Linked DNA regions of Homo sapiens: regions 1 and 2 are each reported to be linked to region 3. The links are microRNA targets in miRTarBase. Many come from high-throughput screens and were not tested one by one. Region 3 holds a microRNA gene; each other region holds the end of a gene's coding sequence.

Region 1 (4,059 bases), not on the chromosome of region 3:
CCTGGGTAACACAGAGATCCAGTCTTTACGAAAAACTGCAACATTAGCTGGGCGTGGCAGCATGCACCTGTAGTCCCAGCTACTCCAGAGGCTGAAGCCGGAGGATCGCCTGAACACAGGAATTCAAGGCTGCATTGAGCTACAATCACGCCACTGCACTCCAGCCTGGGCAACAGAGCAAAGCCCTGTCTCAAGAAAACAAACAAACCCACTTTTATACTCTTGACGCTGGGTAAGCATCTTCTATAATGGGTATATTTAAAGGATTTGGGATTAATATTGTAGTAGGCAAGCACTATTTGTATTCTAGAATATTGCCCTTGCTTTCTAGCTTTAACATTTTCTGTCTCAATTTACACTATTTGTACTAGGTAATATTCACTTTTCTTTTGGTTGTCATTTATTGTTTTCAACACTATCTTCATGACCTGTTTGTGTTCAGAGTGGCTCACAGATAAGGAAACATTTTTGCCCAGTCTTAAGTTCATGGAAGATAATAGGAAGAGTAATTAACTGCAGCAAAAGGTTAGGACAAAACATGGCATTATCAGGGCTTGAAAGGACTTTATTGTGGCTGTGGTGAAGCAGGCCCTGGTCTTGGCAGATGATACCAGAAGGGCACTGAGTGCCAGCGTGCAACTTGAATTTGATCCCATAAAGTCAGGCATCAGGAAGCCATTCAGAATTTTTCACCCTGTCAGATGCTCAGATTTGCTAGAGAACTCTGGTAGTGGCAAGAACCAGAGCTGTTACTCAGAATTGGGACAGAGGCATTGTCCCAAAAAAAAAAAAGCCCAAATCAGAGCAGTGGCAATGTAAGTGCAGGGAGGACATGATGTGGGATTATTTAGAAAACAGGCCAAATGACATGCAACTACTCTGCGGATACAGACGAAGCAGGAATCAGGGACCCAATAAGTCTCAGGTGCTTTCAAGTAAGAGCATGTAGGTGGAAAGGGGCAGGACTCTGGGTTCCATTCTAAGTAACTGAGACTGAAGCAACAGTGGAACCTCCAGATACAGATAACCCCTGACAGACTGAAATACGATCTGGCGACAGCAAGGAGGTGGCAGCTTGAGAGAGGTCTACAACCCACCTAATGGTTTAGAGCCACCTGACTACCAGGCCTGTGTGTGGACGGGAAAGTCCTGAGGATTGGACTCTGGAAAACCATCACACTTAAGAGACAGAGGAAAAAGAGCAGTCACGGAGGTAGGTCACGAAATGGGTCAACAGGACCCCCGAAGAGTTCAAGATACTGGAAAGCACTGGCCATGAGTGCCAGATCTCCAGCACACACATCATGAATTTGCTTCTCCCCAGAGGAAAAGAAGCTCCTTCAGGGTGGTGCCTGGCTCAGGGTAGCTGGTCAACAACTAGCTTTTAAAAAAACAGAGACACGGTCTCACTATGTAGCCCAGGCTGGACTTGAAATCCTGGGCTCAAGCGGTCATCCCACTCAGCCTCCCAAAATGCTGGGATTATAGGCGTGAGCCACTGTGCACAGCCAATAACTACTTGTTAAGTGAATGAAGAGGTAGGAGCTGGGCTCTAAGTGGCCACTGGACTTGCTGATTAGAAGGGAGTGATGCCATAAACCACAGCCACTTTCAGGACAGCAGCCTGCCTCCTCTCCTCCTACCCCTATCCTGTCCAACACCTAAGCATAGTAGTACCACTGGGAGTCTGTCTCCTCAAAAGCAAGAATGTTCAGGTACACATGTGTGAGTTCACCTCCTAACTATAGGGGAGAAAGCCTGTCTTTATGTATAAGTCTCATTCACCCATTTTGACCAAAACCCTTCAGAGGGAGATGCTGTCATTATGATGGGTACCTCTTCAAGACTACGCAACAGTAACAGAGCCTATAAAAGCTACACAGAGGCCGGGTGCGGTGGCTCACGCCTGTAATCCCAGCACTCTGGGAGGCCAAGGCAGGCGGATCACCTGAGGTCAGGAGTTCGAGACCAGCCTGGCCAACATGGTGAAATCCTGTCTCTACTAAAAATACAAAAATTAGCTGGGCGTGCTGGCTCACGCCTGTAGTCCCAGCTACTCGAGAGGCTGAGGCACGAGAATCGCTTGAACCTGGTAGGCAGAGATTGCAGTGAGCTGAGATTATACCACCGCACTCCAGCCTGAGTGACAGAGTGAGATATGGCCTCAAAAAACAAAAAAAAGCCACACAGAATACAAGCAAGAAAGTACTTTTAGATTAAAATTCGTCTTATGTGAATTATGGCAAATGAAATCACCCCACTGTTTACCTGTTTTATGAGTTTTTACATTTGCTTAAAATTAGCATACTTGATCTTTTACAGTTCCCATCTCCACCAATTAGTATTGGCAGATTTCCACTATATGTAGAAGTCAAAAGATCAGACTGTAAAAATATCAGATATTGTAATTAAGAGCTCCAAACAAGTCTTGCAGTTTCAAAGGTAGAAACCCACCCAGCCAGTTCAGCTGCTTGGACTTCAAAGCCCTCCGCCTAGCCATCTCAGCCAGGCTCAGGTTCCTTCTCCCACCCATCAGGCCAAGCAGGACTTGTCAAACATACACATTCAAGTTCCTAGCACACAGTAGGTGCTAAGTGGGAATTGATTATAAACTTGAATTCTTCCATCAACAAATATCCACCTCTCCTGTCCAGCTTGCCTCAGATCTTCAGGTTCTCTCTTCTCTGAGGCAGCTAAGCTTCTACATCCTTCATGAAGTTTCCTTTACTTCTCGACAGAAGACAGTTCCCTTTAGGCCTATCATCTCTAAATGCAACTGGCTTTCCATTTTCCACTTACTCAACACTCCACAAAGTACACTTGCTACATGGTATTTATTCAATGACTGTATATTTAGTCACCACCTCAATCACTGCTAAGCTCTCTTCATGTCTATCTGTACCACAGTTTCCCATCTTAGACTGTGACGTCAGCTGGCAAGGGCTGGCTGTTGGCCGATTCATCATGACTGACATGGTGTGTCACAAAGAGCTCCAAGTAAATGCTGTGAAGGAAGAGGATGAGGATGGAGATGAGGATCCTGAGAAGGGCCCAGACTGGCTGCCCAACCCATGGACCTGAGGCCTGAGTAAGGCCTGGGAGCTGCTTTCCCCTCTGCCCAGGAACTCTGTCCAGGGGCGATTCTAAGGCACAGTGGTGAAGGACATGATTGGTCCCCCAAGTGTGGTCCTCAGGTCTCATGGCAGCCACTCGCCTGGGAACAGTGCAACAAGCATTCCATTTAGAAGATCTTCCAGAACACACACAAGAAGCATTGTCTAATGAAAATGGAGACAAGGTCTTTCTTGGAAGAGAGTGCCCAAGTAGATACTCTCTGCCCCAAGACTAACCAGGTCCCTTTTAAGGTCCCTGAGAACAGCAGCCTGGGAGCAACCAAGCCTTTCAAAGGCTGACAAGGCACAGAGTGGATGAATGGAACGAACGATACATGAAAAAAACACTTTGGCTGATAAAACCTCCAACCTGAGGCAGGGACAGTGTCGCTCGCTGACATGCAGAAACATGACTGTAGCAGAGATGATGATGATGAGAAATGCTTCGCATTTCCCACACTGCCGATATCCCAAGCCCTGTGCTACCACCCTCTCCCCGAACACACACACACACACACACACACACACACACACACACACACACACAGAGCATCTGCAGAATAAGTCAGAGGTTGACACCCAGAGCCTGACGTCAGGATAGGACTCTTGGCACTCCGCACTGAAACACCGTGATTAGTCCTGACTAGACAGCAAAAGTAACGCCAGCCTAAGCTTGAAATGAAGGGTCCATCTTGTGAAAAGTTAGGCTGCGCCCAAGACAGCCAGGTCTGGGAAGTCTTTCACTTCTCCTACTTCGCTGAAAGGCTGTCCACCTTGGTTGAATGTCAGCTTGTACCGTAAGCGGATAGGTTCCTGGGACAGAAGAGACAGAAGATGTCAAATCAGTGGAGAGCAACCCAGGAACAGGGGTCAATGTTAAGTCAAGTGAGTGTTTCAAACAATTCTGACACAAAATACCTGGGATACTCTCTTTGGGACTACAAAC
Region 2 (4,059 bases), not on the chromosome of region 3:
TCCCTAAATTCTTTTCACTGATATTCTCAATTTGCTATTCTCCAGATACCATTTCCTGAATTAAATTCTGTTGATCTTTTTCACTCAAAAAAAGTGATGAGTTATCTCCAGAACATTGATTTTTATCAACCTTGAGAGTAATACTGCCTTTATATATTATAATGATCAGAATGTTCTGTACATTTCCACTGCTTCAAAATTGTTTGTAATAATTACTTGGACATAAGACCTGCCACTGACTCACACTTTATAAAAAGGATTTTAAGTCCATGTGTGTAGCATTACCCGGATATAATTCTCTAGAAAGAGAATTCCCATTTTATTCATTTATTTATTTTTTGCAAACAATTTTAGAGGCAGGGTGTTAAACTGATTAAAATTTCACAAGATTGACATTATTGCTTAAAGTGCTTGAATTGGTTACATTTTAAAAAATTAAGGTACAGATTATTTTAAATAAAAACTACAATATTTTTAGCAACAAAATAATAGGAATGCCACACAAATACAGTAACTATTTTGGTTATACAGAAATGGAAGCCAAAAATAAATTAATGTAATACTGGAAAACAGAAATTTAATTAGGCAGAAAAGTAGGAAATAATTTTCCCTGACCCATGCCACTTACATGAGTTCATTACAATAGTGCTGATAAATGCCTTGACCATATAATAGCAAACAAGGGCAAAACATTTAGTGCACAATATTTTAATACACGTGAATATACAAAGTTGATCAAAATGCAATGTTGAAAGATAAAATCCATCTGTAATAAAGCTACACTCCAATATCTAAAATAAGCCCTAAGCTCCAGTTAGAACATAGATCATTATTAGGCATGCCCATGAAATTAAGGGTATCCATGAAAATAAATGCATAGGGATCATTTCTGACATTTTTCCCTATTTTATCTTAAACCCAAAATACACCAGGCCATAAAACCAAATATGATTGACTTCCTATTCAAACTAATGCCCTGCTTGTGTTGTGCCTCACTCTCTTTAGACCAGTCCATTTCCTATGACCACAGAAGTGAAAATGCATCAACACAATAGGACCAGATGCCAGCATTTTACCAACATTTACTTTTAAACACATGATTTTTTAGCATGCTGTGCCATAACCTAGAGGCTAAACTAGTAAGTAACCAATAAAGCAAATGTTCCTTCTGTTTTTTTTTTAAAGTGTAAAACATTGTAACTTATTTTGTAACACCCAGCAGTTACAAGAAATACAGCAGGCCTACTCACTCCTGCAGATGACACACGGAATCCTTGGCCATTGGAGGGAATACTGCAGAGCCTTTGGGCTATCGCTGACCTCAGAATGGTCTCACATCTCCCACACCATTTCCTGCTTTACACTGTGAATGAGGGATGTAAACTAAAAGTGTTTGCATGTTACTGTCTTTACATAAAGAGACATGATTGGGAGAAACCTGCAGCTGCCCAGTGTTTGTTTCATTTATTGAGAAGGAAGAGGGAAAAAATTAGCAGATAGCTCTAAATTTTAAAAAGCTGATGGAGTGTTGCTGGAGAAGTGTGTTTTGGTCTTTTTCCAATCTTCTTTTCCTGCACCATACAACTGTTTTAATGTGTTTGCAATATTTTCTTATACTTACCCTTTTTCGTTCCAAAAATCTATCCATGAATGCTGAATTTTAACTGACTCTTTCTATTAAAAGGAATTACTTCGATTAAATAACTGGGAAAAACATTTTGCACAACCAAATAGAAAAGAAATATCCTGAACTTATGACTTAGCATTTAAACATTACTTCTACAGCCTTCCAACTGAAATATTTTTTCTAATAAATTAGCTTCAAGAGGTGTTTCAAAGATAATTTTAATAACTTTTCTTATGAATCAGTTCCAAATATATTAGAGACCAACCATCATGTTCTTAAAACTTTGTAACTTGCAGTCAAATATATGGATTCTATATAGTACAAACATTTCCCTACATCAATCACCTTCAGTTGGAAAGTGCCTCTCCTTAAAAAGAGATCAAAACTCACCTTCCAGGTAGTGATTACTGCGTAAGTTTCATGGAGGAAAAAAAAATATTTATAAATGTGAAATTGCCTCTAAACAAGGCAAGGTACATTTCCATCACTTGTATAAAACAATAACATGAAGATCACCCTGTTTTGTCTTCTCCAGTGAAAAGTAAAACATTTCACTTCAAGCATAAACAAACGAAATGTTGGCATGCTTACTTAAGTTCTGAGCAATAAACAGTTCAAGATATTTCAAAGATAAGAAATCCAGTTTTCATCTAGATAAAGTGCTATCCTCTTCATTGTTGCAAAATGGCCACTAACATTTTCCATTTCAATTTTAGTTCACATTATGCCCAAAGTTTGCATGTTCATCAGTGGATGCATTAGGTAACAAAAATATGTTCACAGTTTATTATAGTGTATGGAAGTTAAGTGGCTTCTAAAGGAAGCCAAGATCTATGACTCAAAAACCAGCTCAACAGCAAAACACCAAATGACCCTTTTAAAGGTACCAATATTCAAATGCTCTAATAAATACATATATAACAAAAGTGAAAAAAGTAACTATAGTGAGATGAGGTTCTTCCAAAAAAATTCTGTCTTGTCAAGCATTCTAGGAGTCTGAGCCAAAGAAACAGCGCCATTTTGTTCATTCCTCCCCCTGCCCACGGACACTTCCTTTGAGCCACCTCTATACCCAGCTAACTCTGGTATTCCCTCTAGGGAAGGTTCTGTATCAGCCCTGGGACTCGCCAGTGCCTCAGTAAACAGACGGACTATGTTAAAAAGTTAAGTTGTACAACGTGCTGATGGCTGGAAAGATGTAGTACCTTTGTTATTCCTGATAAGGAACAATGCCGTGCTGACTGGCTAAGGGGAGGTTTGCCAGCCCTGCAGCCATTGACTGCCACATCAGCAGGATTGGAAAGATACCTTGAAAAGCTTAGCAGTGCCGGATACAGGATAAATACAACTCACAGGGCCTTACATAAGTGTCACTGAAAATAAACAACATAGAGTTATTTTCCTGAAACTTGGTTTTGGTAGAAAGGTACGAAAATAACTTTTCATTGTCCACAAAAACTTCCTCCTCTTGACTTTGTCTGCCCTGAGCCTTCTTAGCCCCTGGAATTGTAATGGCTAGGTCAGCACAGCCCAGTGCCAATGCCAGCCAACACCAGCCGCCACGGACAGCTTCTCTTCACCCTGTTTCATGTCAAGGATGATTTTAATATCGAGGTTACTCACTTTTCAACATTTTCACTTGCACAAACTTAAAGCTATACTTGCACCCCTAAAAGGTGAATATCTACCCAATTCTTCTGTCCTTGTATCAGAAGAGAGGCAGAGAAGCTGAAAATGGGTAGCAATGCTTCCAGGGACAAGTTAAAGGAATGCATTGTAAGAAGACCCTGGAAGCCATAGAAGTTTAGCAAACACCTAAAACAGACCGTAGACATTCATAGGAAATGTCATTCTAATACAGCCAGACATAATGAATGGCATAGCTTTCACCCAGTCCTAAAATTAGCAACCGTTATTCATATAAATCAGACTACAATCTGATTGCAGTTAACTCTATGTCAGACTGAAATAAAACCAAGAGTAGTGCTGCATGTAAAAACACAAAAGGAGAGAGTCTAACACAGCCAGACCATTGAGACTCGGAGTGATACCATTAGTGGGCCACTGGGGAAGAGGAAAGCCTGCGGAGAAGCCGGGTGACAGTGCTGTGAACATTCTCCCCACGTGAATCAGTCCCGCAGGTCTTTCAGTTACTCTCTTGACTGATAGAATAAAATATATCCAGATTCTGAATTTTTTGATATATCTGACGTCAGGCCATAGAATTCTTCAATAGCTTGAGCATCTATTTTCTGCAATAAAGGAGAAAGAAAACAACACAATTACTTAACATGATTCCTGGGGAAAGGAAATAAAAACTAATGGAATATATATTAAAATGCAAGGAACACAATTTGTTATGAAATCATCATTAGGAACTTTCAATAGCAAATGGAGAATTCCACAGACTTGGCTAAAGGACATCATCACAT
Region 3 (4,067 bases):
GATCGAGATCAGCCTGGCCAACATGGTGAAAACCCATCTCTACTAAAAATACAAAAATTAGCTGCACGTGGTGGCACGTGCCTATAGTCCCAGCTACTCGGTAGGCTAAGGCAAGAGAATCGCTTGAACCCGGGAGGCAGAGGTTGCAGTTAGCCGAGATGGCGCCACTCTACTCCAGCCTGGCAACAGCGCGAGACTCTGTCTCAGGAAAAAAAAAAAAAAAAAAAAAAAAGACCCAGTGCCTACCCTTAAAGGAGCTCTTCTTATTGAAACTCTTTAAGGAAAGGAGGCAGGAAACAGACATCTTTAATGGGCCAGAGGCTGATTTAGGCTGTTCAGACATTGTTAAGCTGCTCAGCATCTGAAGTTCAAAGAGGCTGAGAACAAACCGGTTAGGAAATGGCAGAAGGGGGTTGGGACCTAGGTGAGCAGCCCGTCAGGAGCCCCTGGGTGGCTTGCACTCCTAGCCCCAAGTGCAATATACAGGTGAGGCGCCTGCAGAATTTTCATTAGGCTGAGTTCATTTCTGGAAGCAGGGAATTGGCATCCACTTAACCATCCCTAATGCCTGCCTTTTCATGTATGTCTGCACTTACTTCTGGCCTTCCCCGGATGCAGTATGTGATTCCTGGAAGGGGTCTCCTGTACGTCGTAGTTTTGTCATCTTCAGGCAACCCAGGATGACATGATTTCTGGAAATTTCCCTGATTTCTTTCTGCTTCACTCTCCCTCTTTTGCTAGAAGGGATCGGCTTAGGCAGCCATTGTGGTGTTCATTCAACATGTCCAGTACAGCCTGTTACTGCAGTTTCCAAGTTGGAGGGTCCGTGAGTCTACTCCCTTTTTTGAACAGAGGGGTACATGGGGAAGCTGAGCCTCTGATGAATGGGTTGATTTGTCCCAGGTCACACAGCTTGAGGGTGGCAGAAGCCAGATCTCAGGTCACAGAGTGGCTCTCCTCCATTTGCCTCCCTGGTCTTGCCTCCTGGAGGCCTGTAGATAGGAGACACCCTTCCTGGAAAGACAACAGCTTGGGGACATTACAGATAAGGCTGGGCGGGTGTGCCTAGCTAGCCCAGAATAAAAGGATCACCGAGAGAAGTTAGGAATCGACCTTCCTTGAGGTGGGTTCTGCAGATAAAGATGCTTTTGAAGTTCAGTTGGTGGGAGATAGGATCTTTGTGGCCTTCTGGATGGATGCACCACGATAGGGAAATCAGCAAGCTGAAGATAGGGAAAGTGAACACTTATCACTGAAGGCCTCTGCAGGGTTTGCTTTGAGGTACTTCCTTCCTGTCAACCCTGTTCTGGAGTCTGTCTCCATTTTTCAGACACAAAAACTGAGGCATAGATAACTGTTTTCTGTTTTTTGTGGGGAGAGAGTATTATTGTTTCAATTTCCTGGACACTTCAAAACATAGGGTATTTCTCATTATGCAATAGTTTAATTGAGCACATACTGCAGGCCAGGCATGGTGCTGCATGCATTCTGGAAGTACAGGAATGAGTTGGAAGTGCTCTTTTTCCTTAGAGATTTTTTGTTCTCTTGTGTGTGTGTTTGGGGGTGGGGGGGGCGGGCGGGCACGAATAGGGGAGGAATTTAGATGAGAAATCAGATAATCACAGCCAAGGTGCCTGCCTGGGGACACAGGGTGCCATAGGCACACAGAAGGGCCCAGGGTGTGGACTTAGGGTGGTCAGGGGAAGGAAGGAGTTTGCCCAGAGAAGAGGCAGGAGGGAGACAGGAAAGGTAAGCAGAGGCCAGATCCTAGAAAGACCATTTTGACTTTGTGCTGAGGGCGATGGTCTCATGATGCAGATTTTAAGCAGAGGTGAGAGAGGGAGAGATTAGCATTTCAGAAAGCATGGCCTCTGCCATAGGAAGACAAGATCAGAGGGAGGTCCAAGCTGGTGGCCAGTGGTGACGGGGCCTGAGCTGGAGGAGACAGGGATGCACTGGAGACCCAAGAGAGAAGTCCCTGAACGCGGTGCACGAAGAGCCTCTGGGGTTACAGGAAGGAAGGGGTAAAATGTTCTTTTCTGTGTCCAGCTTAGGCCACTGAATAGATTCGGTGCTGTGTGTTGTACTAGGAAATGCGGAGGTGATGGGGATTGTTTGGGCTGGAGTCTGGAGGGGCTGTGCCCCACCCCAAGCTGGGTGAGCATCTAAGGTAAGTGAGGGCTGTGCCCAAGACTGCATGAGCAAATCCAGGTTCTCCTACCAGCAAGCTGCCTTGAAGACTCTGAGGCTGGAAATGTATAACCTTGTCCGTACCACTGAGCACCTGTTACCCATACACATTACTGTTCTCCAAACCACGGAACAACTTGAAGGATTGTTTTGCCAGACTAAAAAGTGAAGAAAGCACTGGTTTCCTTCCATGGTGTTCCTCTTTAAACCACACCTTCTCAACCTTGTTTAGGGAGTGGGGATGGCCTTCAGGAGCTCCAGAGGCCCCCCCTGCCCGAGTCTGACTCCTGGTTTCTGGCTTCAACAATGACTAACCTGTAACTTCACATTTTGGTCTATAAAGTGGGTAGAAATGTAGCACCTCTGCATTCTCCAGGTTTGTTGTGAGGACGAAGGAGATAATGAATGTAGAATTTTTTTTTTTGAGACGGAGTCTCGCTCTGTCGCCTAGGCTGGAGTGCAGTGGCGCGATCTCGCCTCACTGCAACCTCCGCCTCTGGGGTTCAAGCGATTCTCCTGCCTCAGCCTCCCAAGTAGCTGGGCCTGCAGGGGCACTCCCAGCTAATTTTTATATTTTCAGTACAGACGGGGTTTCACCATGTTGGCCAGGATGGTCTCAATCTCTTGATCTCGTGATCCACCTGCCTTGGCCTCCCAAAGTGCTGGGATTACAGGCGTGAGCCACCGCTCCCGGCCATGAATGTAGAATTCTGAGCCCAGGGCTGGCTCACTGGGAGTGGGCCACACATTTAGGGGGTTGTTGTTGTACACATGATCATCGGTGGCACTGCTTTGCAGCCTAATGGTTTTTGACACATGTGTTCCTTCTTAATCCTTAAGCCAGCACCTTGAGTTGGGTGTGATCAACTCATTGAATTTTTTAACTTCAGCTGTGACATTATAGATCATCTAGCTCTGCTGTGACCTTATTTTGTAGATGACAGGGCTAGGGGTTACCATCCCTCTTAAGGCCTAGGGCCTGGGTGTTCTCACACCCAGGTTGCGGTTTTTGTCCTTGTCTTCTGGAGGTTCGTCTGCATTTTATTTTTTTTTGTTGACGATTTGTTGACGAGGCTGGAGTGCGGGGGTGCTATCTCGGCTCACTGCAGCCTCTGCCTCCTGGGTTCAAGTGATTCTGCTGTCTCAGCCTCCCGAGTAGCTGGGATTACAGGGGCACACCACTGCACCTGGCTAATTTTTGTATTTTTAGTAGAGACGGGGTTTCACCGTGTTGGCCAGGCTGGTCTCAAACACCTGACCTCAGGTGATCGCCCACCTCGGCCTCCCAAAGTGCTGGGATTACAGGCATGAGCCTCCATGCCTGGCCTCATCTGCATTTTAGGGTCCCTGTTTTACAAAGGAGCAGTCCCTATTTTACTTGCAGATGGGCAGTAGTGTCAGATCCTCACTGGGGTGGTCAGGGAAGAGGAGGTGTTTGGAAGAGGGCCCCAATGGACCTCTGGCCTGCGGGATTGAGATCGGGCTGGCCAGCTCTCCTCTCTTTCCTCAACAGAGTCTGGGTCTCACCCTGCCCAGCAGCTTTCTCTTCTTCCTAGAAGTGCCCAAGACAGGATCTTTTCAGTTCTGAGATCTTCCACCCCTCGCACGGCAGCCTTCCTGCCCCTGCCCAGGCTGACTTCACACCATGCTCTGTTATCCCAGGTCCTAGGCTCGCATCGGCCACTTGCCACCATGTTGGTGACTGCCTGCCCTCTACCTTGGATGGTGCGGTCCACGGGGCAGGACTGGGGTTTGCCATTTGTGTGTCCCTGGTGCTTCTCTCAGTGTCTGACACCTGGTGAGATTTGCCACCTGTTTGGTGCATGGGTGAGTGTGGTTGTTTACACTAGCGTTGTTATTGGAAATCACTCAATTCT

What was found. The annotated mature microRNA hsa-miR-1205 reads UCUGCAGGGUUUGCUUUGAG and lies in region 3 at 1,262-1,281, shown strand. An mRNA with a match to its seed (bases 2 to 7 or 8) in the 3' UTR can be bound and repressed. Matches are read on the target gene's strand: a 7mer-m8 pairs with bases 2 to 8, a 7mer-A1 pairs with bases 2 to 7 and ends in A, and an 8mer does both.
Region 1: miRTarBase lists GGA2 as a target of hsa-miR-1205. Seed matches in the 3' UTR shown: 7mer-A1 at 3,666-3,672.
Region 2: miRTarBase lists USP46 as a target of hsa-miR-1205. The part of its 3' UTR that is shown has no 7-base or 8-base seed match.

The regions. Positions count from the first base shown.
Region 1 is chr16:23,463,775-23,467,833 of GRCh38, forward strand. It overlaps GGA2 (golgi associated, gamma adaptin ear containing, ARF binding protein 2), which reads right to left. Exons shown (of 17, transcript NM_015044.4): 17 at 1-3,926. The coding sequence ends at 3,816. Among named protein-coding and RNA genes, the nearest start is that of COG7, 13 kb to the left of the region's middle.
Region 2 is chr4:52,593,863-52,597,921 of GRCh38, forward strand. USP46 (ubiquitin specific peptidase 46) reads right to left here. Exons shown (of 9, transcript NM_022832.4): 9 at 1-3,879. The coding sequence ends at 3,778. Among named protein-coding and RNA genes, the nearest start is that of USP46, 63 kb to the right of the region's middle.
Region 3 is chr8:127,959,379-127,963,445 of GRCh38, forward strand. MIR1205 (microRNA 1205) reads left to right here and starts at 1,255; the gene lies at 1,255-1,317. The region is part of intron 3 of PVT1 (Pvt1 oncogene); the gene reads left to right. RefSeq lists an enhancer at 631-1,606 and a cis regulatory region at 1,013-1,124.